Homo sapiens: one gene and its partners. The protein of the gene in region 4 purifies or fractionates together with the protein of the main gene of each other region. This does not show direct contact. Each region holds a gene or a part of one and is shown on either strand. Other genes may lie near its edges. The genes, in order: RBM12, TIAL1, EIF3A, SBDS, MYBBP1A, MTCL1 and HNRNPM.

The links.
Region 1: the proteins of SBDS (region 4) and RBM12 purify together in Homo sapiens (co-immunoprecipitation; one large-scale study listed by IntAct). This does not show direct contact.
Region 2: the proteins of SBDS (region 4) and TIAL1 fractionate together in Homo sapiens (co-fractionation; one large-scale study listed by BioGRID). This does not show direct contact.
Region 3: the proteins of SBDS (region 4) and EIF3A purify together in Homo sapiens (affinity purification with mass spectrometry; one large-scale study listed by BioGRID and IntAct). This does not show direct contact.
Region 5: the proteins of SBDS (region 4) and MYBBP1A purify together in Homo sapiens (affinity purification with mass spectrometry, with the first as the bait; one study listed by BioGRID). This does not show direct contact.
Region 6: the proteins of SBDS (region 4) and MTCL1 purify together in Homo sapiens (affinity purification with mass spectrometry; one large-scale study listed by BioGRID and IntAct). This does not show direct contact.
Region 7: the proteins of SBDS (region 4) and HNRNPM purify together in Homo sapiens (affinity purification with mass spectrometry, with the first as the bait; one study listed by BioGRID). This does not show direct contact.

Annotation. Positions count from the first base shown.
Region 1 is NC_000020.11:35,651,330-35,655,532, forward strand, and holds part of RBM12 (RNA-binding protein 12), read right to left. Parts: intron 4,016-4,203; 5' UTR 3,994-4,015; coding exon 1,195-3,993; 3' UTR 1-1,194. Other genes in the region: CPNE1 (copine-1), read right to left, coding at 2,199-2,213.
Region 2 is NC_000010.11:119,586,223-119,590,687, forward strand, and holds part of TIAL1 (nucleolysin TIAR), read right to left. Parts: intron 2,027-4,465; coding exon 1,930-2,026; intron 1-1,929. UniProt on the Homo sapiens protein: RNA-binding protein involved in alternative pre-RNA splicing and in cytoplasmic stress granules formation. Shows a preference for uridine-rich RNAs.
Region 3 is NC_000010.11:119,039,037-119,043,501, forward strand, and holds part of EIF3A (eukaryotic translation initiation factor 3 subunit A), read right to left. Parts: intron 3,737-4,465; coding exon 2,958-3,736; intron 1-2,957. UniProt on the Homo sapiens protein: RNA-binding component of the eukaryotic translation initiation factor 3 (eIF-3) complex, which is required for several steps in the initiation of protein synthesis.
Region 4 is NC_000007.14:66,986,723-66,990,391, forward strand, and holds the end of SBDS (ribosome maturation protein SBDS), read right to left. Parts: intron 1,778-3,669; coding exon 1,649-1,777; 3' UTR 958-1,648; downstream 1-957. UniProt on the Homo sapiens protein: Required for the assembly of mature ribosomes and ribosome biogenesis.
Region 5 is NC_000017.11:4,548,359-4,552,823, forward strand, and holds part of MYBBP1A (myb-binding protein 1A), read right to left. Parts: intron 4,269-4,465; coding exon 4,093-4,268; exon of another isoform or gene 4,082-4,092; intron 3,935-4,081; coding exon 3,767-3,934; intron 3,640-3,766; coding exon 3,522-3,639; intron 1,996-3,521; coding exon 1,700-1,995; intron 1,085-1,699; coding exon 974-1,084; intron 292-973; coding exon 166-291; intron 1-165. UniProt on the Homo sapiens protein: May activate or repress transcription via interactions with sequence specific DNA-binding proteins. Repression may be mediated at least in part by histone deacetylase activity (HDAC activity).
Region 6 is NC_000018.10:8,711,560-8,716,024, forward strand, and holds part of MTCL1 (microtubule cross-linking factor 1), read left to right. Parts: intron 1-2,582; exon of another isoform or gene 2,583-2,690; intron 2,691-4,465. UniProt on the Homo sapiens protein: Microtubule-associated factor involved in the late phase of epithelial polarization and microtubule dynamics regulation.
Region 7 is NC_000019.10:8,461,671-8,466,135, reverse strand, and holds part of HNRNPM (heterogeneous nuclear ribonucleoprotein M), read right to left. Parts: intron 3,608-4,465; coding exon 3,555-3,607; intron 2,640-3,554; coding exon 2,632-2,639; intron 2,544-2,631; coding exon 2,450-2,543; intron 813-2,449; coding exon 621-812; intron 1-620. UniProt on the Homo sapiens protein: Pre-mRNA binding protein in vivo, binds avidly to poly(G) and poly(U) RNA homopolymers in vitro. Involved in splicing.

The DNA of each region.
Region 1 (4,203 bases), on a different chromosome or scaffold from region 4:
TCAAGAATCTCAATTTTCTCCTCTGGCGGCTGCACTTGTACTCTGTATGAAGACTTTTAGTAAACAGGCTCCTGATCGAACAACTATGCCAAAAAGCCTCCAAATAACAGGACTAACACGTATCAATCTACGAACCAGCATACGGATCTTTTATTCTATACTACTACTGCTAACAAAGATAATTTCAACTTCAGTTTTAAAAACCTAGATATAACACTTTCTTATGAATGGGCCCCTCTTTGTTTAAAGGCCAAAATTTCACATAATCGGGACAGGAGGAAATTGATACTACAATTAGTCCATATGAAAAGGACTTCAAATCAAGTATCTTAAACACATTATTAAAAGTGGTTTCTGGTTTTCGATACCATCCAAACAACATGAACAATTTTTAAACTGACTAACCTAAATCGTGGCGGTCAAACCAAAAAGGCTCTGGTAGATAAAGGACTCCATAGTTTATTTTTATGGCAAAAGTCTTATTCCACACAGTTTTAAGTGTGACATTAGAAATCAAAGTTTGAGGTTATAGCACAAACGAAGTGTGGACTTTTATATTTAGGGAAAAAAACCAACAAAACAGTTCTGCTCATTTACAAATGAGTCAATTAGACAAACAAAGCAGCAACTTCTGAAGCAGGACTGTCTATACAGCAAGGACCCTTAAGAAGCAATAAAGGTACATACAATGAATCTGTATACAGAAATTTTATTCAATTTTAAAAGAAAATGAGGACTTTAGACAAAGCTTTACCCTATAACAAAGCAAATCTGTCCAGCTTTAAACCAAATTCTGAGAGTAGCCAACTTCTATTTTCAGCAGCTGGCAAGAGCACCCTCAATGAGTTCTACTGACATTTCTATTTTCTTCATCCCATATGGTATAAAACAAAACCAATCTAGACTCCTTGATAAGCTTTATGTGGTCATTTGAGTTTTACAAATGGTTTCTCTAATGGTATGCCAAAATCATTTATGTGTTCTCTCCAGATAGCTTTACTGTAACATACAGCAATGTTTATCCTGGTGAGTGAGTCTTCTGTAAACAGTCAACCAATGCTCTATGTTATGGAAACCAAGCTATATGCAATTGAAACAATCCACAGGTTCTAACCTGGAAATACTAGGAAAACAATCTGGATGCATTAATCACAGCAATATGAAGATCTACCCTATAAAAAATGATGTGAATGGCTACCCTAATACAAGTTTTACTTTTCTTGAACCTATAGGCCTGTCATTTAAGTCAATGACAGCAGCTGTGGCTTCATCCCGAGACTCAAAGGCCACCATGGCTTCACCTGTGGGCATACCTTTTTCATTGTATTTTAAACACACTGAGCCTGGGATTACTTGATAGCCATAAAAGAAATCTAAAATCTCATCAATAGACACAGTAAAGGGCATGTTTTGCACTTTAATTACTGTCGGTCCTGGTTTTCCAGAACTAGATGCAAAGCCAGGGGGACCACCAATATGGATTGGGCCAGGGCCGGGGCCGGGGCCGGGGCCAGGCCCAAAAGCTGGTGGCCCACCCAAATGCCCAGGGGCACTTCCAAGACCAGGAGGGCCACTTCCAAACCCCGGGGGACCGCCTAAGCTACCAGGGCCATTTCCAAAATTCTGAGGGCCCCCTCCAAATCCCGATGGCCCACTTAAATTGTTTGGTCCACCTCCAAAACCCGGAACATCCAGTCCTAGACCAGGCAAACCACTGTTTCCAACTGAAGGCATACCAGGCCTAGCATCACCAAAGGCCCCGCCTCCTAATCCTGGAGGAGGGATTGGTGGCCCAAAGGCATTTGATCCACCAAAATTACCAGGAAAGTTAAATGGAGGCCCATTATTGGCTTCCTTTGATCCTACAGTCAGGAAGGCATGCTCTTCACCTCCTGCACTAGGTATTCCTGCACTGGGCATTCCCGCACCAGGCAGTCCTGCACTGGTTATTGCTGAACCAGGCAGTCCTGTGCTGGGCAGGCCTGCACCGGGAAGTCCTGCACTGGGCAGTCCCACACCGGGCAGTCCCGCATTGGGCATTCCTGGAACTGCAGGATTACCTGGCACAGGCATCTTTAATCCCTTTTTTCCTTGGGCAGGGGGATTTTTCTCAATCTCTCTCATATCTTCTAGGGTAACTACATGAACAAAAGCTTCTCTCCCATTAAGTTTTTTACGGTGTAAGCGTTCAGACTTACGTGCATCATCTTCATTTTTAAACTGAACCAATGCCTGTCCTAGACCTTGCCCATTGTTATCAACAAGAACATGTACAGCATTTTCATCCACTGGGATTCCTTCTAGGAACTGAAGAACATCCATCTTTGTAATGCTGAATGGAATATTTGTTATGTGGGCACAGACTTTGGCAGAGTTGACATCCCCCTCTGGATTTAGTATCATTTCCCTCTGGTCATAGCTGAAGTTCTGCAGTCTTTTTCGAATCATATCTATCTTTTCTAGCATACCTTTCTTAGTAATTGGATGAACTTGAATAAAGCGATTGCCCATGTACTGTTTATGACGACACAGAGCAGCCTTATAGTCAGCCTCATTTCTGAACTCTACAAAGCCTTCGCCAGTTGCTTTCCCATTGGGTCCATAAGCTATATAAATACTATCTTCCACAATATCCAGCTTTTTAAAAAAATCAATGACATGTTTGTTTTCTGCTTCAAATGGTAGCCCTTTCAAGTAAACACAAAAACCAGCCTCATGTGGTGATCTTGACCTTGATCTTTTCTGCCCACTGGGCGATTTTGACCTGGGAAGTGTCTGAGGAGGGGGATGAGTTTGTCCAGAAGGTCCCATATTTTGCTTAAAAGTGATATGGCCTCCAGCAGCTACCCACTGTCTTTCTGTGGCAGGGCTAACTTCCACATAGCGTTGAATCATCAGCATTCTGTTTCGTTTCAAAGCTTCAAATGTATCTTGAGGGGAGAGAAACTTAACCAATCCATTCCCATTATTTCGACCTACATGATCTTTCAACAAATGCACTGCATCAACACGGAGCCCATGAAAAAAATCTCTGACATCATTTTCCATTGCAGAAAAGGGCATTCCATGCACACTGACATACAGATCATCAGGGTTGATGGGGAGTGGCTTCACACTGCTCTGAGAGTTCATCTGGATAGGGTTAACAGGATTCAACGGACCAAGAAACATAGGATTCAGATTATTGTTCAAATTCATAGGTGCTCCAGAGCCATTCATTCCAGCAGGTAGAGGTGCCACAGGTGGCGGATTCAAGGGCGGCATGCCCGACATGGGTGGCAGTGGGGTCATGGGTGGCACAGAAGGAACTGGGGGAATCGGGGGCACAGGAGGCACAGGAGGCAATGTAGGTACTGGAGGAGGAACTGGAATTGGGGGAATGGATGGCATTGGTGGCAGAGATGGCATCGCTGGAATTGGAGGAATTGGTGGCGGCGGGACTGTGTTCATTGGAGAGGCTGTGCTTGGAACAGTTGAGCTAAACGTTGGGCTCCCAAAGGAAGCCCCCATATTTGGAGGAGCTGTTCCTACGCTGGCTGTGGAAAATGTCTGTATGTTTTTGTTGCTTTCATGAACAGAAGTGGTGGCAGTAACTACACTGGGTGATGGATTATTAAAGTTGGATACTGTTGTGGGCAAGTTTACCCTGCTACTCATTCCTGAGCTAGGTGGTGGTCCTGATCTACTGGCATTTGCTGGTGGTATATCTAAGTTGGCAGTTTCAAAACGCCTACGACTCAGTTCAATCATATTCTGCATTTCCGTCTTACTACTCAACAATAGTGTTACTTTTGACCCTTTAATTGTACCACCTGTGCGCATCATACCAAGCCTTGCATCTTCATCAGTGGCAAAAACGATGAAAGCCTCACCCAGTTCACCCCCTACAATATGCACGCCCCCATCAGGAATGGTCAATCCAGAGAAGAAGTGGCGAATGTCCATGGTCCCCGCCACAATTGGGAGACCTTGCAAACGGATGACCACAGCCATGCTGCGCTGAAACCACACACACCTGCAGATGAGAAAAGGCAACGGCCAGGTCAGACTCCTGTTTATCACACCAAGTTTTTAGCTACAAGAATGACCAGCTACCATATTAGGCCCTCAAATATTCCCTCAAGCTATCACAGGCAATGTCTTTAATTTAGATATTCTAAAAACTGAACATTACGTGCCATTTACAATGTAAAACGTAGACAA
Region 2 (4,465 bases), on a different chromosome or scaffold from region 4:
GACATCCATCAGGTCACCCCCACTTTAGCAAATAAATAGCATTACCAACTATACAACTGCATTAACATGAATCTTAGGGTATTTCCTGATTTCTTCCTTTCCCTATGTCCCACAGCCAACCCAGTCCTATCAATTCTACCTCCAAAATATATTCCAAATCTATCAACCTCTGTCCTTATCTTGACTTCGGCTAGCACTTTCGAGAATAAGCCTCCATCATCTCTTACCTAGACTAGTGAAGTAAATCCAGATGGTTTTTCTCCTTCTGCTCTTGCCCGCTACAATCTATTCTCCATAAAACAGTCATTCTCTACATAGAGTAGTAAGCTTAAATATGCAAATCTTGGCACCTCATCCCCCTGCTTAAGCCCCTCCACTGGTCTGCCACAGCAATCAGAGTAAAACCTAAACTATGTCATGGACCATAATGTCCTGTGATTCTGAATCCTGCTGTTAGACTCATTTCCCTTAACTCCCCTCCATCCCTCACCAGACTCTAGCCATCGGTCTTTGATTCCACAAACACAAGTTCATTACCAACTCAAGACTTGTATTTGCTGTTTCCTCTGCCTCCAGCTCTTACCATAGATAGCACCATCTTGTTATTCATCTCAGCTCAAAGAGGTGACATCTCTCATCACCTAGCCTATATAGCACCAACCCTCCAATCATCACAGAACTCTGTTTTATTCTCTTCATGGCTTACATCCCTATTTGCTTGGGAAACTCATTTGGCTGTCTCTCCATTATATCTCCAGTACCTTGTATAGTGCCTAGTGCAAAGGAAATTTTTGATCGATGAAAGCACAAATAAATAATTAAAGGCAGGAAGGAAAAATATAATACACCAGAACAAAATGATGATTGTCATTACTTGGGAAAGACAATCAAAAGGCCAATGCACTTTAAAGGTTTTTAACAGTTCTCCGTTTCAGGATAAAACAAACTCTTTAGCACAGTTTCTAGCCCTTTCCATAAACTCCTGCCATCTCTTACGACTAATTCCATTTTAACTACAACCATGCTACGGGTTCTATTTTTCCCTCTCTGTCTCAAGCACTCCTGCTCTCCCTACCAACCTGGATCAAAGTTCCCTTTATTTGGAATCCCTTCTTCCCTCAATTCCTTTCTAGCCAGTATGTACTACTATCCTTTCAAGGTTTCCGCCTAGGCAGTGAGTCCTCCAAGAAGCCGCTCACTGACCTAAGGCTGCACTGGATACACATTTGCTCCCACAGCACTTTAAGTTGTCTGCTTCTAGAGCATTTATTATCCTACTTCCTAAGTGCCTGCTAACTCCTTTGTCTCCCTACTAAACTGTAAAATTCTCTGGGCCAAGGAACTATCTTTATTCACCAGTGTATCTCTAGCACTTACTGCAGTATCTAGTACATAGGAAATAGTCCAAAAAAAAAAAAGAAAGCTGATCAATGAACAAAAACACAAGGAAGAAAAGCCTAAAACATGACTAATTGGGTGCTGCTACAGTCTTAGCAGGAAAGTATAAAAAGGTAAGTATTTGCTACAGACACACGAGACGAACGGTGCTGCACACTACACACATAATAACTTCGTGTTCTCGCACATGAACACATGCTGTCTAAATCGTTAACATTCTTATTGGAATTGTATGAAATACTTTCCAATTTTTCACCATTCTGAAATGAGCTCTAATAATGTTCTGAAAGCAGAATCACTTCAAGATAACCACACCATGAAGAATGACCGTTTGAGCTTAACAGCACGGAAACTTTGCCCTCTTAAATAAAACTCCATTCTAAGCCTAGTTTGTCAGCCAAATCAAAGTAATAAGTCAACACAACACAAATCTCTCCACCAGAATAACTTGAGGCTTACAATGAAATTTTAAAATCATGCTAATCAACCCATCATGCTAATTGTCAGCACATGGAACTGGGAAGATCTTACCTCTGTTATCATTTTACAGCTTTTACAGGGTCCAATCTGACTGAACAACTGAAGTATAAGGACTTCTGTCACATCTCTGGAAAGGTTACCTACGTATCTGCACAAGAAAAAAATACGTTATCAGCAATTTTTCCTTTAGCTCTGGCTCTAATGTGTTATCATCTAATTCATCACCTTTTCTTTCTTTCTTTCTTTCTTTCTTTTTTTTTTAGATGGAGTTTTGCTCTTGTTGCCCAGGCTGGAGTGCAATGGCATGATCTCAGCTCACTGCAACTTCCGCCTCCCAGATTCAAACGATTTTCCTGTCTCAGCCTCCCAAGTAGCTGGGATTACAGGCGCATGCCACCATGCCTGGCTAATTTTTGTATTCTTAGTAGAGACAGGGTTTCATCGTATTGGTCAGGCTGGTCTTGAACTCCTGACCTCAGGTGATCTGTCCGCCTTGGCCTCCCAAAGTGCTGGAATTACAAGCGTGAGCCACTGCGCCCGGCCACCTTTTATTTCATTTTAACTTCCTCTGTTTTCAACAAAATTTCTCCAATTAAACCTGATCCTATGAAAGTAAGATTAACCCTTATTTAGGAAAGCAACAATTGTTCTTAGGCCACTAAAATACCACTCTGAAAGACATTTAAAGAACAAATCAATGTGATCTTGTATACCCCAATGGCATTATTATTCTGTACCCTGGATATCATTTTCTCATCTTATTCTAATTGTTAAAATTTTAAACTGGTCTCAAGATAACTACAATTTCTAATTAAAAATAATTTATAACACACACACACATACAACAAATACTAATTCATTAAAACATCTGATTGTAATAGGATATTAAACATAAAGTGAGTTTATCTTAGATTCCCAACCAAAGCAATTACATGAACAAAGAACAGAATTAAAGTTATAGTAAAACATACAGAGGGTGGAGGGTTTTTGTTGTTTTGTTTTTGGCTGAGTAAGGTTGTTTGCAATGATGTCTTCACTGTTTCATTTTAGGAGAGCAGGGTAAAATATAAAATTTCCTAGTCTAAAATGCATCAGAATCAACAAAATATATATGTATTTTTTTGAGATGGAGTCTCACTCTGTCACCCAGGCTGGAGTGCAGTGGCATGATCTCAGCTCACTGCAACCTCCGCCTCCCAGGTTCAAGCGATTCTCCTGCCTCAGCCTCCCAGGTAGCTGGGACTACAGGCGTGCACCACCACGCCCGGCTAATTTTTGTATTTTTAGTAGAGACGGGGTTTCACCATGTTGGCCTGGCTGGTCTCAAACTCCTAACCTCAAGTGATCCACCTGCCTGAGTCTCCCAAAGTGCTGGGATTACAGGAGTGAGCCACCATGCCCAGCCAACAAAATATATCTTAATGTAGATAAAAAAGCTAATACAAAGATTTCTTAAGAAATTCAGAGAAAAACTAAGACAAATCCAGGCATACTTTTGACTATGGACACTTAAAAATTTGGGTTTTTTTTCCTAATTACAATTGAATGTGTTTTGTGTAAAAGATTTTAAATACAGGAAAGTTTAAAAAAGAAAAGAAAAAAATGCTACTTCATCACACAGAGAGGACCACCTTGGTTTATGTCTTGTACTATGGATTTATCTTAATTTATCTAAATAAATTGCCAAACACTAAAGTCTTTCTGGTATTCTACACATAATTCCTCAAATTTGCATCTGTTATGAACAACCTCATAAACCAAACAATATCTGTAAAATTTAACAAAGTTCATTCTGGAAAGTAGATTTCTTTTTCTACTTGTAATATATTACATCTGGAAACTGAGTATTAAGACCAAAATAAGACTTGCAACATAGCTGCCACATTAAATACACAACATGCTTTAAGATGGAATACTCAAAGGGAAAAATAGACTGAGAAAGCTTAGGTTAAGTAAAAAACTTAAAAGATCCAATTAAGAATTAGTAGCGATTTTCCAGTTAAGAATTTTATTGCAATGAGTACTAATAATCTTAGTGTACCTGCTCTAAAATTGAAACACACATCCAATATTACCTAACTAGAGGACTAAACAAGTGACAAACTGTTTTACGTCCACTATGCCACCTTTTCCACGTAATTAAGGAGCTGATCCATCAGCAGGCCAATGTAGTGACATACTTTTTCCAGCAGGACTAAAAGGTTATTGGGTTATGAGCCAGCGATAGGCTGCTTGCCCCTTCTTAACTCATAGGGGTTTGTGAGCCTGTATCTCTGAAATGATTTCTTTTTGTACAGAGTAGACCTATCTGTAAGAAAAATGAACAAGTGACCAGGCATGGTGGCTCACGCCTGTAATCCCAGCACTTTGGGAGGCTATGGCAGGCGGATCATGAGGTCAGGAGTTTGAGACCAGCCTGACCAACATGGTGAAACCCTGTCTCCACAAAAAATACAAAAATTAGCCGGGCATGGTGGCGCGCACCTATAATCCCAGCTACTCGGGAGGCCGAGGCAGGAGAATCGCTTGAACCTGGGAGGCAGAGGTTGCAGTGAGCCGAGATTGCACCATTGCACTCCAACCTGGG
Region 3 (4,465 bases), on a different chromosome or scaffold from region 4:
GATTTCAGCATAGTATCTGTTCTGATGTTACACAGATCACTCATTTAAGCAGAAACTTCAAGAGTTTTCTCTGAGTCCCAATTTTGAGGTATTTATACCTTGCAACGTTTTCAAGCCCTTCATATCCAAAAAACAATCTTTCCTTTTATATTCCTGTCCTCCACCATTTGCCACCCATTATCTAGTCATTAATCATGAATAAATCCTTTAACCCTGCACAGTGGCTCACACTTATGCATGGAATATATGAATCTAGGAACATTTTATATACAGTACATATAGAGATGTAAATTTGCTGGTGACCTCACTGTTTAAAATGGCCTCCAAGTGTAGTGCTAAAATGCTGTCTAGTGGCCAGGCGTGGTGGCTCATGCCTGTAATCTCAGGAATTTGGGAGGCTGAGGAGGGTGGATCCCTGGAGCCCAGGAGTTCAAGACCAGCCTGGGCAACATGGCAAAACCACATCTCTACAAAAAAATACAAAAATTAGCTGGGCTTGGTGGTGTGCACCTATAGTCTACTACTCAGGAGGCTGATGTGGTAGGATCTCTTGAGCCCAGGAGGCAGAGGTTGCGGTGATCTGAGATCACGCCACTGCACTCCAGCCTGGGAGACAGTGAGGCCCCACCTCAAAAAGAGAAAAAACAAATGCTGTTTAGTGGCCCCAAGCACAAGGTGGCTATGATATGCCTTAAGGAGAAAATACATGTATTAGATAAGCTTTGTTCATGAATGAGTTATAATGCTGTTGACCATGAATTCAATGGTAATGAATCAACAACATATCAGAAATAGGGAGTCTTTAAACACAAACACATAAAAGACATTTTATGTATTGATTGGTTGACAAAAATATCATGACTAGAAGCTTACAAGAACCTAACCTTGTATTTACCCTAGGAACATGAGTTCAGTATTCATGGCAACTGTATAAAATATAATTAGCAAATTAGTAAGAATCTGCTATACTGTTACCCCATTTAACATGAGGAAAAGAAAAATTAAATGTCTTACACAAGGTAACAGCCGAACAGCAGAATGAAGTGAGACTAGAAGAGACGAAGTAGGCAACAGAAACAACTGGGGAAAGCAAGGAAGCAGCTCACTTAGATCTGCACTTACAACAACTGCTCTGGTTATTTCCCTGACACCCAAAATTAAAACTGGGAGTAAGAGAGGCAGCAAAAACCAGTTAGCGGGTGAGGAAAATGATGCTGACCCAGGACCAAGTACAAGCAATGGGAATGGAGAGGAGGGTGGATTTCAGGAACATCAAAAAGGCAGAACTGAACTAAAGATTTAACATAAAGGATGAAACAGAGACAAAACAACTCCCAGAATCCTAGCTCAGACAGTTAGATGGACAGTGATGCCCCTGAAGAGAATCAGAGGGATGGGTGGGCGTGAACAAGTGCACGTGTATGTGATGGTAATGAGTCCAGTTTTGGATAGGCTGTGTTAGACATTCAGTAAGACTACCAAGTGGAGATGTGCTATATGCAGTAAGCAGCTGTCACCTGTGTGCAGTACGCAGAAATTACCTAGAGAAAACTGGCCGGGGCAGTGGCTCACGCCTGTAATCCTAGCACTTTGGGAGGCCGAGGTGGGTGGATCACTTGAGGTCAGGAGTTCGAGAGCAGCCTGGCCAACATGGTGAAACCCCATCTCTATTAAAAATACAAAAAAATGGCCGGGCGTGGTGGCTCATGCCTGTAATCCCAGCACTTTGGGAGGCTGAGGCAGGCGGATCAAGAGGTCAGGAGATCGAGACCATCCTGGCTACCATGGTGAAACCCCATCTCTACTAAAAATACAAAAAATTAGCCAGGCATAGTGGTAGGCACCTGTTGTCCCAGCTACTCAGGAGGCTGAGGCAGGAGAAGGGCATGAACCTGGGAGGCAGAACTTGCAGTGAGGGGAGATCGCGCCACTGCACTCCAGCCAGATGACAGAGCGAGACTCCGTCTCCAAAAAAAAAAAAAAAAAAAAAAATTAGCCATGCATGGTGGCATGTGCCTGTAGTCCCAGCTACTTGGGAAGCTGAGGCAGGAGAATTGCTTGAACCTGGGAGGCAGAGGTTGCAGTGAGCTGAGATCATACCACTGCACTCCAGCCTGGGAGACAGAGCAAGACTCCACCTCAAAAAGAAAAAAAATGGTAATAGACGCATGTCACAAACATGTATACAACTGCTCACGAATAATAAAGTGTGAAACAATAAGCAGGCCCAGGACTAAGAAAAAAAATGAGGCTGGGCGCAGCGCCTCACACCCGTTATCCCAGCACTTCACTTTGGGAGGGAGAGGCAGAAGGATAACTTGGGCCCAGGAGTTTGAGACCAGCCTGGGCAACATAGCGAAACCCCGTCTCTCCAAAAAATAAAATATTAGCAGGGTGTGGTGGCATGCGCCTGTAGTCCTAGCTACTCAGAAGGCTGAAGTGGGAGGCTCCCTAGGGTCCGGGAGGTCAAGGTTGCAGTGAGCCATGACTGCACCACTGCATTCCAGCCTGTGCAACAGAGCAAGACCCTGTCTCAAAAAAAGTAAAGTAAAATGAGTTCCTCCTTGCATAATCTCTCAGTTGGCAAAAATAAATATATAAAGTACATTTTGGTTTCAATTATTTATTTTTAAAAGGAGGCTGGTTCCCAGTAAAACCTGAAAAATACACCAATACTGAAAGCATGAGTACAGGAAGAGCCTTCAAAGAAGCAGTCATCGAAGCAGAAGGAAAACAAAGAGCACATCACTAAAGAAGAGAGGGGTTGGGTTATTTATGTTTTGGATGGTGGTATTCTGAAGGCAAACTTTTGACAGCGAAGTCACTGCAAATGATACTGAAGGAAAGATGAAAGACCAGTTTATCTGGAAAATAACAATACAGCCCTGATATTTATCCATCAGAATTTCACTTTTACAGGTGAACACTTAAGCATATTCTAGGAAATAGAATTTTACCTGGCTTGACTAATGGTCTCCAAGGACCAGGTCTTGAGTCATCACCCCGTCTGGGAAACCGATCATCATCAGCACGTCTTGAAAGGCGATCATCATCCATGTTTCTCCAAGGGCCCCTGTCATCCTCTGCACCACGCCTGGGAATTCTGTCATCATCGGCGTTCCTCCAAGGTCCTCGATCATCATCCAACCCTCGCCTGGGACCCCGGTCATCATCCATGCCTCGCCTGGGACCCCGGTCATCATCCATGCCTCGCCTGGGACCCCGGTCATCATCCATGCCTCGCCTGGGACCCCGATCATCATCCAACCCTCGCCTGGGACCCCGGTCATCATCAGCATTACGCCAGGATGATCGCTCATCATCAGCGCCTCCTCGCCTCGGCCCCCGGTCATCATCCATCCCACGTCTTGGTCCTCTGTCCTCATCAGCTGTTCGCCAGCTTCCTCTGTCCTCATCCAGTCCTCGTCTAGGTGGTCTGTCATCATCCGCATGACGCCAGTTTCCCCTGTCTTCATCGGCAATTCGTCTGGGAGGCCTGTCATCATCTGTGTTACGCCAGGAAGGCCGGTCATCGTCTGCCCCACGACGAGAGAACCTATCTTCCTCAGGACCACGTCTAGGGCCTCTGTCATCATCCATGCCACGCCGGGGAACCCGATCATCGTCTGGTCTAAGAGAGGGCTCTCTATCTTCATCATCCCCCAGACGCCGGGGCCGCTCTTCATCTCTTCTATGAGACCTGTCCTCATCTCGCCCTTCTCCACGTCTCCACTCCCTACACAGCAACAAGAACAATTAAAAATATATAAAATAAAAAAGCATATGATCCTTTGGGGATTTTTTTTTTCACATGCTTTTTAAAAACTTCAGTATGGGCCGGAGCAGTGGCTCGCACCTTTAATCCCAGCACTCTGGGAAGCAGAGGCAGGCAGATCACCTGAGGTCAGGAGTTCAAGACCAGCCTGGCCTGGCAAAACCCATCTCTACTTAATTGTAAGACATGCGGCTGGGCACAGTCGCTCACACCTGTAATCCCAGCACTTTGGAAGGCCAAGGCGGGAGGATTGCTTGAGCCCAGGAGTTTGAGACTAGCCTGGGCAACATGTCAAAACCCCATCACTATAAAGAATATAAAAATTCACCAGGCGTAGTGGCCCACACCTGTAATCCCAGCACTTTGGGAGGCCGAGGCAGGCAGATTTCTTGAGGTCAGGAGTTCAAGACCAGCCTGGCCAACATAGTGAAACCTCGGGTCTACTAAAAATGCAAAAATTAGCCAGGCGTGGTGGTGCATGTCTGTAATCCTACTTGGGAGGATTACAAGTGCCTCCCAGCTACTTGGGAGGCACAAGAATTGCTTCAACCCAGGAGGCGGAGGCTGCAGTGAGCCGAGAACGCGCCACTGCACTCCAGCCTGGGTGACAGAGCTAGATTCTGTCTCAAAAACAAAGAAACAAACAAACAAAATTAACCAGGCATGGTGGAGCGCACCTGTGGTCCCAGC
Region 4 (3,669 bases):
GCCTCCCAAAGTGCTGGGATTACCGGTGGGAGCCACTGCGCCTGGCCCCAGAAAATCTTAAGGAAATGTTCTATTAAATGTTTATATTTTTTTACTAAGATAGAACTATTGATATATTGAACAAATAGCTGTATCAAAACAGCAGCCTAGCTTTAGCATTAACAGAAAAAGTGTTCATTCCCATGTTATCAATGTATTTTGTTAACAATATAAGAAAAAATTTTGACTTTATAACCTCAATGTTAGTTATTTTAAACTAAAGGGACATTTCTGAGAGCTTGTATTAGCAGGGAGTTGTGTGTGCTTATAAACCAATCAGTACCTTTTCAAGTCAAGAAGCCTGTCTTCAGTTAAAAACTGCTGTCCAGAAATACATCTGTATGTTTATTTTGAGTGAATTTAATTTATATTCTAGAATGTATCTTTTGAAATAGATTTTTTTTCTTTTTTTTGGAGACCGAGTTTCACTCTGTCACCTAGACTGGAGTGCAGTGGCACATTCTCAGCTCATTGCAACCTCTGCCTCCTGGGTTCAAGTGATTCTCCTGCTTCAGCCTCCCGAGTAGCTGGGACTACAGGCGTGCACCACCATGCCTGGCTAATTTTTGTATTTTTAGTAGAGACAGGGTTTCACCATGTGGGTCAGGCTGGTCTCAAACTCCTGACCTCAGGTGATCCGCCTGCCTCGGCCTCCCAAAGTGTTGGGATTGCAGGTGTGAGTCACCTCCCCTGGCCTTGAAGTAGATTTTTAAAAGCTTGCATCTTGTCCATTTAAGTGTTTAAATACTAAAATAATTCTTCCCAATTACATCCCAAGTGTTAGCAAAAATTTTTCAGGTGTTTACAAGTACAGGCCCTGTTCTAAGCACTCTTCATATGGACTTATTCAGTTCTCCTGACAACTCCCTAACCCTACCACAGACACAGGCAGAGAAAAGAAAGGGAGTTAGGAAGTTGTCTAGAAACACAAGCCATAGTTTAATAAACATAAGAGTGGTTTTATTGATTACATACAATTTTAGCTATATTAATATATATTATAAACTTTAAGAATTAGAAATAAGTGACTTTTATTTTTTAACCAAGAATAATCTAAGTTATGGCAGCATGTTCAATGAAAGGTAAGTCCGGCACAATTTTTCTATATCTGTTTCTCAGATAATCAGGAACATCATCCAAGCTTTACATTACGATACCATAATGACCCTCAGAACACAAGTTCCATTAAGTAGAAATGAAGCATCATATGTTTTCTTTTTTAGGAAAGACCCCCCCTTTTGTTGTATAGACATACCCCTAATAATCTTACTCTACTGTACAAATAACTTTTCACCCACAAGAGCTGCCTCAAGTAACTTTCATTTTGGAAAGCTATCAAGGCATGAGACAGAGTAGCAAAATGCCACTCTGGACTTTGCATCTTGGAGTTTCAATTTTGCTTTAGGATTTAGACCCCAGTTTATAATTAAAACCAAATCATTCCCACATTATTATACTTATGTAGGAAAGCCTTGCTGTGTCCACTGTTAACACAAAGATAGAAAATGTCAAATAGTTTAAGCAAGTATTTGGCAGACCACAGACATGAAACAGTGCCGTCGGAAACGGAAACACTTTAGTGTTTTAGAGGTGAAGAGATTGATGGGTGTCATTCAAATTTCTCATCTCCTTCTTCTACATCTTTCAGATTGAGTACTTCCAAAGAACCTTTGCCTTTAGTTTCCTTTTTTATTAGCTCATCAATTTCTCGGAAGCAGCCCGGGTCAATCAGACATACCTGAAACATTTAACGTAGCAGATTACCACATGAGGATGAGCAAGACACAGAATAAACTCAGCTTTAACTTCCTTTGAGGCAAGCACAATGCTGTCCAGATCTCTAATAATACCACAGTTCTATGGTGCAATAGATAAGACAATGGGTAGGGCGGCACACTGGGTTCCAGTTTAGCCTCTGCCCTCAAGTGTCCATGTAGCCCCCTGTGACAAGGCATTAATCCCTATGTTTAAACACTTATTCTGATTCTTCAGCTGTAAATGGAAGGGACAAACTAGAAAACTCTGATTCTTCTCATACTAAAATTTAGCATTACATTTTATAGCTCAGTAAAGTCACCTCCACGTATGAAGGAGAAAAAGCAATGTGAAGACTTATGTAGACACCATGTGTATGTTAATTTATTTTTTTTTGAGATAGAGTGCAGTGGTGTGATCTTGGCTCACTGCAGCCTCCGCCTCCCAGGTTCAAGTGATTCTCCTGCCTCAGCCTCCCAAGAAACTGGGATTACAGGAACCCACCACCACACCTGGCTTATTTTTTGTATTTTTAGTAGAGATAGGGTTTCACCATGTTATCTGCTCACCTTGGCCTCCCAAAGTGCTGGGATTACAGGCACGAGCCACTGTGCCTGGCCCATGTGTACAGTTTTGCAAAGATTTTAGAACTTCAAGTAGTGTCAGATGAGTTAGTTCACATCTACAGTGGATACTCACATACTCAACACTTCTCTACAGCTCATTTACTTTTAAAAAGAAGCTGCAGACAGGGCGCGGTGGCTCAAGCCTGTAATCCCAGCACTTTGGGAGGCCGAGGCGGGTGGATCACCTGAGGTCGGGAGTTCGAGACCAGCCTGACCAACATGGAGAGACCCCGTCTCTACTAAAAATACAAAATTAGCTGGGCGAGGTGGCACATGCCTGTAATCCCAGCTACTCGGGAGGCTGAGGCAGGAGAATCGCTTGAACCCGGGAGGCAGAGGTTGCAGTGAGCTGAGATCACGCCATTGCACTCTAGCTTGGGCAATAAGAGTGAAACCCTGTCTCAAAAATAAATAAATAAATAAATAAATAAATAAGCTGCAAAGCCTTGAAAACATGAATTTGTAGACAGCTCAATTTACACTGTGTTTGAAGCTGTGGGGTGAGGTCATAAGGACATAATGGTTTCGCTGCTTCTTTAAAATGTTCTGTGTTTAGTGTCACCAGGTTCACACACTAATATCCTCTGGAAACACCCTCACAGACATACCCCAAACAATGCTTTATCAGGCTTCTAGGGATTCCTTTCCAGTCAAGTTGACACCTAAAATTACATCCACAATTCCACCCCTTATCAACTTGGCACCCAGACTCATCTCTTTAAACCATTTTTAATTTTCAAATGAAGACAATAACAAGGTCCTAGCTTTTCCTCACATGATGCAATTAACCAGACGCGACTATCCTGCATACAACTCAAAGAGTGCTAATCCTTTTGCCAGAATTCAGCTTTCAGAATTTCATCATTCAGAATTCAATCTTTTTTTTTTTTTTTTGAGATGGAGTTTCGCTCTTGTTGCCCAGGCTGGAGTGCAATGGTGCAATCTTGGCTCACCGCAACCTCTGCCTTCCAGGTTCAAGTGATTCTCCTGCCTCAGCCTCCCGAGTAGCTGGGATTACAGGCATGTGCCACCACGCCAGACTATTTTGTATTTTTAGTAGAGACAGGGTTTCTCCATGTTGGTCAGACTGGTCTCGAACTCCCGACCTCAGGTGATCCACCTGCCTTGGCCTCCCAAAGTGCTGGGATTACAGGCATGAGCCACCGCGCCCAGCCAGGATTCAATCTTTTGGAACTGTGATTTTCAAGATATTAGAAGTTCAGGCTTTGGACTTTAGAGATTTTGATTT
Region 5 (4,465 bases), on a different chromosome or scaffold from region 4:
AGCCGCCTCCCTCCGCCCTCCCCAGGGCTCGGTCTCCCGCCTCTCCAGGACCTACTAGAACTCCGGGGGCCTCTGCCGTTGTTCCCAGCTTAGGGGACCTGGAGGGAGCAGGCGCCCTCAAGGCCTTCCCACCTTCGGACCTCTCCTGGGCTGCCCAAGACTCACCTGAAGAAGGCACTGCTGACAGCCTCTCGGGCCTGGTTTTCCAAAGGGAAGGAGAACGGGTGCTTTGTCTCAGGGATCTGGGATGTGGGCTTCTTTGTGACAAAGAACGAGTGGAACAAACAAAACCTGGGGAGGGTGGGAGAGTGGCCATAGCCATTCACTGCCATTGGTTTTTACAGGCTCCCCTCCTTGGATGGTACCACCGAGGGTACAAGGCCAGGAGGAGGAGGAGCCGCCCTTCTGCCCTGGGTACAGTCCTCGGGGGCCTGACGGGCAAGGCTGGAGGGGGCTGGGCTGGGCTAGGATGGGAAGGGGCCGTTTCTCTGCTCTGGATCCCCAGCTGAACGCGGGTTAACCCGAGCTAGAGAGAGTCAGTGCCCCTCTCAAGGAACCAACAGATGGGAGGCTGTGTGGTCATGGCCAAGTCAGGTCACTGCTCCTGCGAACATGGGACAGCCCCCTCTTGCAACCGTGCATGTTGAGGGTGACGTGAGCACCCAGCTCTGCACTGGCACAGACGAGGCAGGTGTGGGGCAGAAGGCTTCCCTGACACCTCCCACGTGCAAAAGCTGCCTGCAGGGCGCGCAGAGCACACCTGAACCTTTTAGGCCCCTGCAGCTGGGGTGCCTCCTGGGCCCCTTCCCTTCACGGGTTCCTGAGGAATTCCCAAGTCCCCTTGTGCCTGCCCCCCACTGATGACTCAACCCAAAGGCTTCTGGCTCCAGGGGATGCAAACTAGGACGAGTTAAGGGGCCCCATTCCTTGGCCACACGCCCATGGGAAGCTGGGAATCCAGCACAGCTCGCACCTGGCCACCTGCTCAGTCAAGGCCTCCTCCATCTCCAGGTGCAGGCTGTCCACAATGCTCACCAATCGAAAGATGATCCATTTCCTCAGCCGGAACACAGCTCGCTCAGGCCTAGCGGGGCAGGAGGCGAGGTCATGTGAGCCACTTATAACTGGCAGAAACAGGCTGGGCCCAGTGGCTCACACCTGTAATCCCAGCACTTTGGGAGGCCAAGGCTGGCCAATCACTCGAGGTCAGGAGTTCGAGACCAGCCTGACCAACACGGTGAAACCCCATCTCCATTAAAAATACAAAAATTAGCTGGGTGTGGTGGCGGGTGCCTGTAGTCCCAGCTACTGGAGAGGCTGAGGCAGAGAATCACTTGATTGCTTGAACCCGGGAGGCAGAAGTTGCAATGAGCTGAGATCACACGCCACTGCACTCCAGCTTAGGCCACAGAGAGTGAGACTCTGTCAAAAAAAAAAAAAAAAAAAAAAAAGAACCAGCAAAAACAGGACATTCCTTTGCCTGATCTCAGAGACAACACTCCAAGATCTCCCCATCCCGATCGCCAGTGTGGGGACACACAAGTAAACTGAGGCCTCATATGAGAGCTAAGGCTCTTCCCCCTCGCTCCTCTCATGGTTTAGAGCCAGGACGCTGTGGAGGGCGGGCTTGGGTCGCGGGGCTCTGCAGGCCTAGGAAGTTAACTCCTAAATTAGGTGTCCTCCCCCAAGGTCCACTCACATGTGGAGCGATGAATCCTGGGCTTTCTTCTGGTTGTTGGTGCTGAAGTCAACCAAGGAGTCCAGGTCTGGCTGGAGAAACATGGCCCGCAGCCAGGCCACATAGCCCTGCAGGGCCGGAGGGCTCAGGAACCGCACGACCCGCCAGAAAGTAGGCGTGACAGGGAGGCCTTGGTTGGTGACAGATGAGAAGGCCACTAGCACGGCCAGCTGCCGCTCAGGGTCATCCTGGCACCCCTCTAGGAAGGTGCCCACGTAATCGTCCATCTCTGGGGCAAACTTGAACTGCTTTGGGAGCTGCAAGAGTTAGGCATGGCGCTGAGCCCACCAGCCCAGGGGGGCAGGCGGTTAACAACCCAACAGCCAAGGGGGCAGGCGGGCAACAGCCCAACAGCCCAACAGCCCGGGGGCAGGCGGGCAACAGCCCACCAGGCTTGTGCCCACTACAGGTTAAATCGAGCCCCGGCAATCTCCTGTTGTACACAGCTAGGCTGTGCCTGAACTTGCAACAGTCCAGTCACCCCAGTGCTTTTGTCTGGCGTCAAGGCCTCTGTGGGTCTGACTGCCCCAGCTTCAGCACCTCCGGCCCCAGAAGGCCCCTCTTTCCGCCTTGCTGGATGGGGATGGCCTGTTTTCCTGGCTCAACGCAGGGCAGAGTGGTAGTTAGGAGGCGAGACTGACCTGGGTTCAAAGCCCACGCTGCCAATTCCTAGCCGTGTCATCTTCGGGACCAAAAACAACCACCTCTCACGCGCTTACTCAGTGCCAGCACCCGCGCTCCGCCTTTTTGGGCGGCAGCTTAGCATTTTTAGCAACTCTTTGCGGTTGGCCAATATTGTCATTGCACAGGTGAGTACAGTGAGACACAAAAACACCTAGAGGTAACTTCTCAGGGTCAGAGGCTCCCAGTGGGATAGTGTCCGGCTTCACAGCCCAAGCTGTTTTCCTTTCAATTTTTTAGACTTGTGCCCCTGGCATGTAGTGCCATGATCATGGCTCACTGCAGCCTCAAAATTCTGGGTTCAAGGGATCCTCCCACCTCAGCCTCCCGAGTAACTGGGACTACAGGTGTGCACCACCATCCAACCCAAGCTCTTAACCACTGCCTGATACTTCAAGTCTCCCCCTCACCCAGAATGACAGCTCTCTGAAACTCACTGCAAAGATAAAATGAGCTGGTGAGAACAGTCAACCCAGCAGCACTTACTGGGCACCAGGCTCACTGGTGCCCAAACATGGTCATGACGACTGTTCTCATCACTGCCACATGGGCGGGGGCGGAGAGAGGTCTGAACAGCCCGCTGGCTATCCATGCCCACAAGGGGGCCTGCTGGCAGAAGGGCCTGACTTTATCAAAACTGTCAGAGGGAAGCCAGGTACAGTGGCTCACGTCTGTAATCCCAGCACTCTGGGAGGCCAAGGCGGGTGGATCACCTAAGGTCAGGAGTTCGAGACCAGCCTGGCCAACATGGCAAAATCCCGTCTCTACCAAAAATACAAAAATTAGCTGGGCGTGGTATTGGGCGCCTGTAATCCCAGCTACTCAGGAGGCTGAGGCAGGAGAATCGCTTGAACCTGGGAGGCGGAGGTTGCAGTGAGCCAAGATCTCACCACTGCGCTCCAGCCTGGGCGACAAGAGCAAAACTTCATCTCAAAAAAAAAAAATTTGTCCGAGGGAAAGGGGTTCAGGCAGCTCACTACCCAGACGGAGGGGACACCCATAGCTCTAGCCAAGCCCCCGAGGTGCCCTGCTCCCCTTTTTGGCAGGGAGAGCTCCACGTCTAGCCTTTCTGGCAGTGTCGAGCTGCACGGGCATTACCCACCTTAGCAGTGCACACGTGCTCCCCGTAATGGCGGATCACGTCTCCCTGCATCACCAGGTGCAGCTGCTCCTTGGTCAGCAGGGGCAGGGCCGCGCCCAGCAGGCGGAAACACAGGTAGCTAAAGGGGGTGCAGGACAGAGCCTGGTCAGAGCCCTTGGTGCCCCTGGTGGGAACCTCAGGACTAGTGGCCTAGCCCACTTCACGGACAGGGAAGGGGGCCGAGAGAGGACACGCGTCGCCCGCACCTGGCTGGCCAGAACTGCATCTTCAGCAGCCCTTGTTCCACCACCTCCTTCCAGAACCGTGGGAACTTGTCTTCCTTGAGTGCCAGGCGGAGCAGGTCCAGAGCAATGGCGGGCAGCTTGCGGTCCTTCTTCACAGAGGAGGCGGCCATCTTCAGCACATTCACCAGCCTGCGGAGGGCAAGGGACTCAGGGAACACTTGCCTCACAGGCAAGGGCCAGGGTGACAAGAGCAGCCGGGACACCCCCAGGCCAAACGACAAATCTGGGCCTGGCCAGATGCAGTCCCTTGGCCCCAGGGAGGGCAAATCCGCCCACCTCCATCACACCTGGGGACATTCTCATCTGAGAATAGGTTCACGGATCCCACCAGCTTCTTGAGCTTGGAGGGCACCTTCTGCTGGGCCAGGAGGAAGAGCTCTAGCTGTTCAGGGGAGCTGAGTATTATATTCAAGTCGGCTTTGAGGACCTCCGGCAGGATCTCCTGCAATGTGGCCTTCGAGACCTAAGGATGGAGGGAGAAGAAATCGTGACTTCCTCTGCGGGGTGAGCCTGGTGGATCCTGTTCTACCTGCTCCTGACACGGGGCCACCTGGTGAGGTATCAGAGTCATCAGAGGCCAGTTGCTAACAAAACTCAAATTCCCAGGCAGCGGGGTTTTTGACAAGCATCCCACTGACGCTAACTGGCCCCTGGAGGTAC
Region 6 (4,465 bases), on a different chromosome or scaffold from region 4:
TGACTTTTTAATGATTGCCATTCTAACTGATGTGAGATGATATCTCATAGTGGTTTTGATTTGCATTTCTCTGATGGCCAGTGATGGTGAGCATTTTTTCATGTGTTTTTTGGCTGCATAAATGTCTTCTTTTGAGAAGTGTCTGTTCATGTCCTTCGCCCACTTTTTGATGGGGTTGTTTGTTTTTTTCTTGTAAATTTGTTTGAGTTCATTGTAGATTCTGGATATTAGCCCTTTGTCAGATGAGTAGGTTGCAAAAATTTTCTCCCATGTTGTAGGTTGAACCCAGGCACTTTCTTAATGCTGAGGACTTTGGTAAAGCGCTGGTGTGTTCCTTCCCTGCCAGGCTGCCAAGACTGTGTTTTGCTCGAGTGCTCGGAGACAGTCAGACAAGCCGGAGTGCTCGTTGTCAACATATTAATTATGTTCTCTGTTTCCACAGGCTTTTCAGGAGGATTTAATCAGTTGGCATTTATGAGCCTATTTTGAAAATGCTTTTAGCAGCCATAACCCCACACCTCCCCCACCCCCAAATAGTGTCCTCTTGCCATGCTGACCTCCTGCAGGGTGGGTGAGGATTGGGGTGGGAAGAGCTGTTTCTTTTTGCTTTGCTTTGCTTTCTCAGTTATTTCATAGGAAATATTTTTCTGTTAAAAGAAAACAAGTTGGTGCTAGATACAAGGGCAGAGAAAATTGGCTTCTTGGAGAGGAATGATTTCCTAAGGGAGAGGTTGAGTTTTGGTTTTATAGGTTGCAGTGTCTCACTGCTGATCCAAGCTTACCATCCTGCTTCTCATTGGAGTTAGCCTTTTGAGTTTCAGGCCCTGACCTGGTTTTTGACATTTGGCAGCTGGGCTGCCCAGATGCCGGGTGCTCAGTGTGGCCTGGGGGTGGAGGGGCACTTGGAGAGGAGCGCAAGCAGTGCTCTGTAGCTGAGGTGTCTCAGCGCCTCCTTGCTCCCCGCCTCCTCCTCCTTTCTCTTTCAGAAGGGTTAACATGGACAGTATTCCCCATTCTTTCCTGACATTCGCTGTCCATACCCACTCTGTATTCAGCCACTGAAAGAGTGGCTATGATCATTTTCAGTGGCAGTTAATGTAGACAAGGGCTGCGGCCACCAGCTGCTGGCTGGACCATCACCTGGTAGACAGTGGGAGTCGCCCTGCACCTCCTTAGTTACAGCTGGGACTCTTGGAGAACATTTCCCTTGTCTGGAGGGAAATGAGGTGGATTATTCGTATGTTACAAAAGACAGTAGTTTCTGTCTGCCCAGAAGATAGAATTATTGCAGCAGTAGCCAGAGGACTCCTTCTACCATCCAAACTGGGTCTATTTAAAGAGGAGGTGCTAAAATAGAGATAGTTACTGATTTTGGGTATTTAAAAGAGATTAAGATTTTCATATAGTTATTAACATGATTAAGAGTTTTCATCACTTATACTAAGAAGCCATGGATTTGACTTTTATTATATATTCATGGATAAAACTATCCTTTTAGAGGTTTTCATTAAAACATATAATTTTAATCTTGGTTTACTCTAGTGCACACCTGGTACCTCATTATTCCTCTAATTTGAGATACATGATAAGGCTTGATTTGTCAGCCACAGGCAAAGGGGAATAGTCGACTGGACTTCACAGTACTTCAAGATTTCGTTTTATATACAAAACTTTAAAAAGGTATTTAATTAAAACTAGCTTTTCAATGAGATAATGATTTAATACTTAAGTATCCTCCAGACTTGATGTTAATTCAGTAAAAAACTATTAAGGACAGCTTTTTCTTATTTCCGTGTATAAAAAGACAACAGCGATTTTCCAATTTTATGTACTATCTCTAAATTACACCTGTCAGAAACATCATATGCTCTGCTCGATTTGGTTTACTTAAATTTTTAGTTGGCAGATGTCATTAAGGTTCTGCAATACAGTTTTCTAAATTGGAGCATGCCGTCAGAAAATTAATGTAATGTTAGTTTGAAAATCACTATCCATCATGACCCTAATTCCAGTAATCATAGTTTTTGCTTTTCAGATGGCTGCTGCCAGCTTACATGGTTTATAATTTGCTTGTCTTTAACTTCTTTTCACTGAACCTGAAAATTACTTTTTTCTAGGCTCTCTGGGAAGAGTTGAAACACTGGCCCTGGTCCTATTGCTGCAGCAGACCAATAATGGTGGAAAGCCATTTATACTTTTAGAATCTCAGTTTCCTCGTTTTAAAGATGGGAGTATTAGCCAGGCATGGTGGCATGTGCTTGTAATCCCAGCTACTCAGGAGGCTGAGGCAGGAAGATCACTTGAGCCCAGGAGCTCAAGGTGGCAGTGAGCCATGGCTGCACCACTGCGCTCCAGGTTGGGTCACAGAGTGAGACTCTGTCTCTTTAAAAAAAGCGGGGAAGGGGCACGGATATCTTTACCGCACGTTGCAGTGTCTTCCTAAGAACCAGTTGCCCTAATGGATATGCTTTGTGTCGTCACTTGTCGAGCTGTAAATGTTAGGCTGCTTTTTTTGTTTTACACTGATGGTGGACTTTTAAAAGTACAATTGAAGGTCTGTTATTGTTTCATTTGTCCAGGTTGAAGCAAATAATTTATGGTATTTACTCGAAAGAGTGTGTGATTGAAAGCAGACAGGCCTGGGTTTGCAGTGTGGCTTCAATTTACTAGATGTGAAGCTTTGGACACAGGTAACTAGCCTCAGTTTTGTTTTTTTGTCTATCAACTGCATAATGTGTTCCTGACAGGGTTATTGTAGGGTTAGTAATGAGGGTGAGGTGCTTAATAAACGACGCCTGTTCTGTAAATTTAGGTAAAATATGAATTATAAGAGCAGTGATTTAAATACATGCCGTTATGGTGCATTGGTCCATTTTTATACTTCTGTGAAACACTAGACTGGGTAATTTATAAAGAAAAAAGGGTTTAATGGACTCACAGTTCCACATGGCTGGGGAGGCCTCACAATCATGGTGGAAGACAAAGGAGGAGCAAAGACACATATTACATGGAGGCACGTAAGAACGTGTGCAGGGAAACTGCCGTTTATAAAACCATTAGATCTCTCTTGAGACTTACTCACTGTCACGAGCAGCAGAGGAGAAACCCGCCCCCGTGATTCAGTTACCTCCCACTGGGTCCCTCCTGTGACACGTGAGGATTATGGGAGCTACAGTTCAAGATGAGATTTGAGTGGGGACACAGCCAAACCATATCATATGATCTCTCCCTAATTTTCTTTTCTCTTTTTTTTTTGAGGTGGAGTCTCACTCCATCGCCCAGGCTGGAGTGCAGTGGCGCGATTTCCACTCACTGCAAGCTCCACCTCCCGGGTTCACGCCATTCTTCTGCCTCAGCCTCCCGAGTAGCTGGGACTACAGGTGCCCGCCACCACGCCTGGCTAATTTTTTTTATTTTTAGTAGAGACAGGGTTTCACTGTGTTAGCCAGGATGGTCTTGATCTCCTGACCTTGTGATCCGCCCGCCTCGGCCTCCCAAAGTGCTGGGATTACAGGCGTGAGCCACCGCACCCGGCCCCTAATTTTATTTGCAGTACAACTAATGTTGGTGATTATTTGTGCCAAAAAATATTGCTATTTACATCTGGTCTGCTCAATGATGTGGAGGTGTGGGTGCATCTAGCCCTTGAACAGTTTTCATAGCCTGTAACATCTGTATGAAAATGCAGCATTTAACATTAGGGTGGATGTGGGCTCTCCAGTTGCAAAGTCTGAAAGCTAGAGACATTTTATACCTGGAAGCTGTATCTTGCATCTTAGGGCTATATTGCATTTTAAAAACTTTTGTCTTAGTTGCCGATAATCCCAGGCATTAATGACTTTGGCAGGCTTTCTGGAAAGAAAAGCAATCACAAACCATTCTTTCCATGAACAGAATGGCCAGAGTCACTGTATATTTGTATGTGTGGATATACATGTACATATACATATACAGATATTGACTTAGTGTTGAACATTTAGTGATTATTGCTTGTATTGAACTGATTTGTATTAATGACTCAGTGAAACAATTAACCTCTTTACTCAGAAACAAGCATTGCGGTTAGGTTCTTTCTCAAAGTCTGATCCATTAGTTTCATGGATGGGGTGTGAATCAAACTTGACGTTGATTTTTGAAGATTCAGAACTAACTTCCCACTCTATCGAAAGAGTGACAACCACAAGGCTCATTTTAAAGCTTTCAGTCTCCAGTTGACCTCCTCTAGGAGTGGGTAGTGCAGGGGCACAGCTCCCATAGGGCGTCTTCAAAGCCTCAGTGATCAGGCATCAGTAACAACCTCCTGTTTGTGGAAGGTTTGCAGAAGGTTGTCAAGCACTGTCCTGAAAGAGCTGTGTTCTCTGGTCCCCTGAAGAGCCCAAACCACCCATTCTGTTTATGTGTGTTCAGCTGATCAGCTCCTATGCTCAGTCCAGTAACTTCCAGTTCCAGCAGATCTTCCCACAAG
Region 7 (4,465 bases), on a different chromosome or scaffold from region 4:
ATTAGGAAATAATGTCACAAAAACTAATCAACTGCAATGGAAATTTTAAAATAGGATTATAAAGCCTGGCCTTCACTGTAAATAAACTGTACCTATAGTAAATATATTGTCTCTTTTCTCAGAAACTTAAGTCACCTCATACTTCAAATTAATACTCATTTTCTGAACATTTTTAAAAAATTGTTTCCCTGATAAGCTTTACCACTCCCCACCCCACCCAACCTACTTTATTCTAAAAATATTTCCCCTTGCAGATGGTGGAGGTATTATCATTCACCCCAGACACAACAAGAGGAAGGTGTCAGTGCACTTCTGCTCGTACAGTCTTACTCTGCACCAAAACTGCATAAAATAAACCAACGGAGAATGCAGACTCGGTTACTGCTTGCGGAAACACCTGCGAAACTCAGGAATCACAGCCCCAACGAGACCACGGTCAAGCCTGTGACTTAGGAATGCAGACAAAGCCCGCCTATAAGGCTGATTTTTAAAGAAATCAAGAACAAAACCCTTCTTTACATTTTTCTTCTCAAATGTGAGAATTACTTTTATAACATATTGACAAGGTCATTTCATAAAGTTCTGATTTTCTACTTTAGACGATGGTTCTGTTTACTTACATTTGCTACAAATACTGTGCTTCCAAGTCTTCCAGCCTGTAATGCATGGATAATCTCATTTGGGATGTTGGGATTATTTAGGATACTGGGTGGGATAGTAATCATTCCTGGGCCACCTGGTCCCATACCCATCCCACCAGTCGTAGCCATCACCTTTTGCATTGCTCTCCTGGCATGTTCACCATCAGGATCCTAAAACAAGCACAAAAGGTGTTACGTTTAACTGACCCAGTACAACGCAAACCATGCTTGCACAGTAAATGATATTCTCAAGACTTAGAAACTGAAAGGTTGTTTGGAAAGCATCTCTCAAATCTATTAACAAGAAAGTCAAATGAACTCAACTACCAGCTTAGAAGAGTCCAGCTAAAGAAATAGGAAAGGAAGAAAAGGCATGAAGTGTAGCACTAAAAACACAGCTCTCAATTGCACTAAGTAAAAAAGAAAAGCAGGGTAGGGAGGGAAACATGATTAGCTGATATAATGTAGAACCGCCAGACTGAAATTAGAGCTTCATGGGCTTGGTATAGCTGAATCTTACTAATTCATCAATGGGGTTTTGTAACTTCTGCAAACCCCGTCAATGGCTTCCAGAAGTTTGAGAAACAGTTCTAGACCACACAAGCGCCCCCATCCTTCAAGTCCTTCAGGTGTTGGAGGCGTGTGTGTGAGGGCTGCGCAGTAAAACAACATCTGGGAAGGTCTGTGAAGCTCTGTACTGACTCTCTTCTTCAACTCTCTGTCCTGTCAATTACCACCATCAGCACTAAAAAAGACATCATAACACATGAGAGACCTTAGACCCTACCAAGCTTCACTCTGAATCTACTCATCTTCCTCCCCAAGAGAAGAGGTGAAAAGAAGTTAAGAGGGATGTTTTTTTGAGACAGAGCTTTGCTCTTACTGCCCAGGCTGGAGTTCAATGGCGCGATCTCGGCTCACTGCAACCTCCGCCTCCTGGGTTCCAGCGATTCTCCTGCCTCAGCCTCCCGAGTAGATGGATTACAGGCACCCCCCACTACGCCCAGCTAATTTTTTGTATTTTTAGTAGACAGGGTTTCACCATGTTGGTCAAGCTGGTCTTGAACTCATGACCTTGATCCACCCACCTCAGCCTCCCAAAGTGCTGGGGATTACAGGCGTGAGCCACTGCGCCCAGCCAAGAGGGATTTAATCAACAAAAAAACCTTCTTCCTCAAGGAATATATTTGATTCAGATGAGATGTGAAAGCAGGTTTGAGGAATAACAAACTCACTTTATTTTTTTATTTTTTAGACAGGGTCTCACTGTTGCCCGGGCTGGAGTGCAATGGTGCAATCTCAGCTCACTGCAACCTCCACATCCTGGGCTCAAATGATCCTCCTGCCTCAGCCTCCCAAGTAGCTAGGACTACAGGCATGCGCCACCATGCCTGGCTAATTTTTGTACCTTTTGTAGAGAGGGGGTTTCACCATGTTGCCCAGGCTGGAACAAACTCACTTTTTAAAAAAAGAAAAAAGATGGGCCAAGAAGAAGGGTCAGATGGAGTAAAACTTAATGGCACAAACCCACGGGCTCATGGTTTGAGAGTCCCTGAGACAACAAGGCCTCAGACAAATCACAGATATTAGAAGGTGGTCAGCAGCCACTCAGGATCTGCTTGGCCACCACCCCAAAGTCCTTGCAGGGAATGGCTGCTGTAGGCTATGACCGACACTCTTCATTAGAAACAACAGGCTGGCACTTGCTTTGTAAATGCCGTCTGGGACCATGACCGTCTTTCCCTAATTCCAAAGTAGGATCACTCAACAATTACACACAGTATCCGCAGTGTTAAGCAAGAGCTTACTTCTTTGACTTTCAGTGGTCTTCCGCTCAGACTATGCTTGTTTAGGACTTCCGCAGCTTTTTTCATGCTCTCTTCCATCTTGAATTCAACAACACTATAGAGTCAAAAGGAAACGAGTCGAGTGAAACCAGTCCTACAAGTTAGAAGGCTCAAATACCAATAAGTAACTAGACGATACTTACGCACATCCCTTTGGAGGAAGCCAGAGACCAGTCAGAAGAGCAAGGAAGGGGAAAAAGAAAAGAAAAAAATAGTAAATATCAATGACAGTTATAAACAAACTAAAAATATGATTTATGTCACAAAGTTAGTCTTTTAAAATGAACCCTTCTAAGGGGAAGCTGACAGAAGTGCCTCGCCTCGCCTTCCTTGTTAAAAGCTGGGCTCCTTAATATCTCCTTCTCCTACGCGTTACCAGCATTGCACTAGAGCTGCTGACATTTAATAAGCAGACCTAAATTCAGGGTCTCCAAGAAATCACACCAACTTTAGATCTGCTTCCCTCTGTACTCAATCGAGTCCTTACCATATTCCTCCTAAATCCATCCCTTCCGTAAGTTAAGCTCATCCTTTTGATTATTCTAAGCCATTCTATTGCACGACAGAAAATAGTTTATGTTCTCTTTAAACTAGGCCAATTTTGAACATTCAGGTTTTTAATATTTGGTTTACAATTTACTGGCACAAAGGCAACTTTTCGGAATCTTTGGTTCACACAACTTTCAAATTCAGCAAACAACCAAGAGTAACATTTTCTAGACAAGAACACACGTTTTACATTAATTATACCACCGCTAAAATTCCATGCATAATTCACACACAGCCAATTCCTCTGTTAACAAAGAGACAATGCTGCTATTGGTCCCCAGTTATCCAAATTGGGCATCCAAACAGAATACCAAAAAGCTCTTTGGCCAGCCATTTGGAAAAGCGGGACTCCCATTTGCAAATCCCCTCCCACCCCACTCAAATGTTTGGCAAAATCAAACATAGCTACTGTAACATGAGCACTCACTGCCTTCCTGATTTCATTCGATTCCACGCCACCATACAGTTACATTTTTCATGTAGTAAATCCACAGAAGAAATTCTCTCAGACACTTACCCTTGACTTTCCTTCAGCGTCCATTAAGAGCTCCACGTATGTTACCTCACCAACTACAAATCAGTTTCCAGACGACACATAAACCAAGGGAGAAAAGCCAAGAAAACAATGGGAATTTAGAACAATCATCAGCAACCTTGTATGGAGCCTCTGCCTTATAAGAAAGCCCAGAAACACTCCATATTCTCTAAACCACCGAACTAGGCATTACAGGTGTGCAGTAAAAGTAGGTGAAAACACGTTAACAATATGTCCTTGATTTTCCTCCCACCACAAACAAGCTATTCCACAGATTTCCGTATCAATTTCCCTGTCTGGAAGACTCATTCATGACTAGAGGCAATCCAAATCTATAGGAAAGAAGTCTGCGTGATTTACTTTTCTGGGGAAGGGAGGAGGTTTTACACATACGCTCTCATTGGTGGCAAGCAGGTGAAATGCATACAAATTGCGATGCCATCGGGCTGAGCTCACATGCTATAAATACAAGGACGCACGTATGCGAAGGTATAAGCTCACAGGCACACACGGCCGCAGGGCCAGCTTCACAGGTGAGCAACTCGTGCAATTGTACAGAGCCCCGCACTCAGGGGCCCTGAGCTTGGTTTAATGCTGTTATCGCTGCCATGACATTCTTAGTTTTTTTTTTTAACAAGAGGCCCCTTGTTTTCGTTTTGTGTTGGGCCCCACAAATTCTATAGCTGGTCCTGCACACAGCACTAGGCTCCACATCTGTAGAGGCAGAATGTTTGAATATAATAAGATCACAAAACCAGAGCAGCATCTGGATTCTCTTCAGTGAATTAGGCCAGGCTTCATTCTTGCCGCTTTCTAAACCTCCCCATTTAAAGGACACAAATAAATTCAAATTTAGGGCTCAGATTTTGTATCTAAACAGTTAAACAGACTCA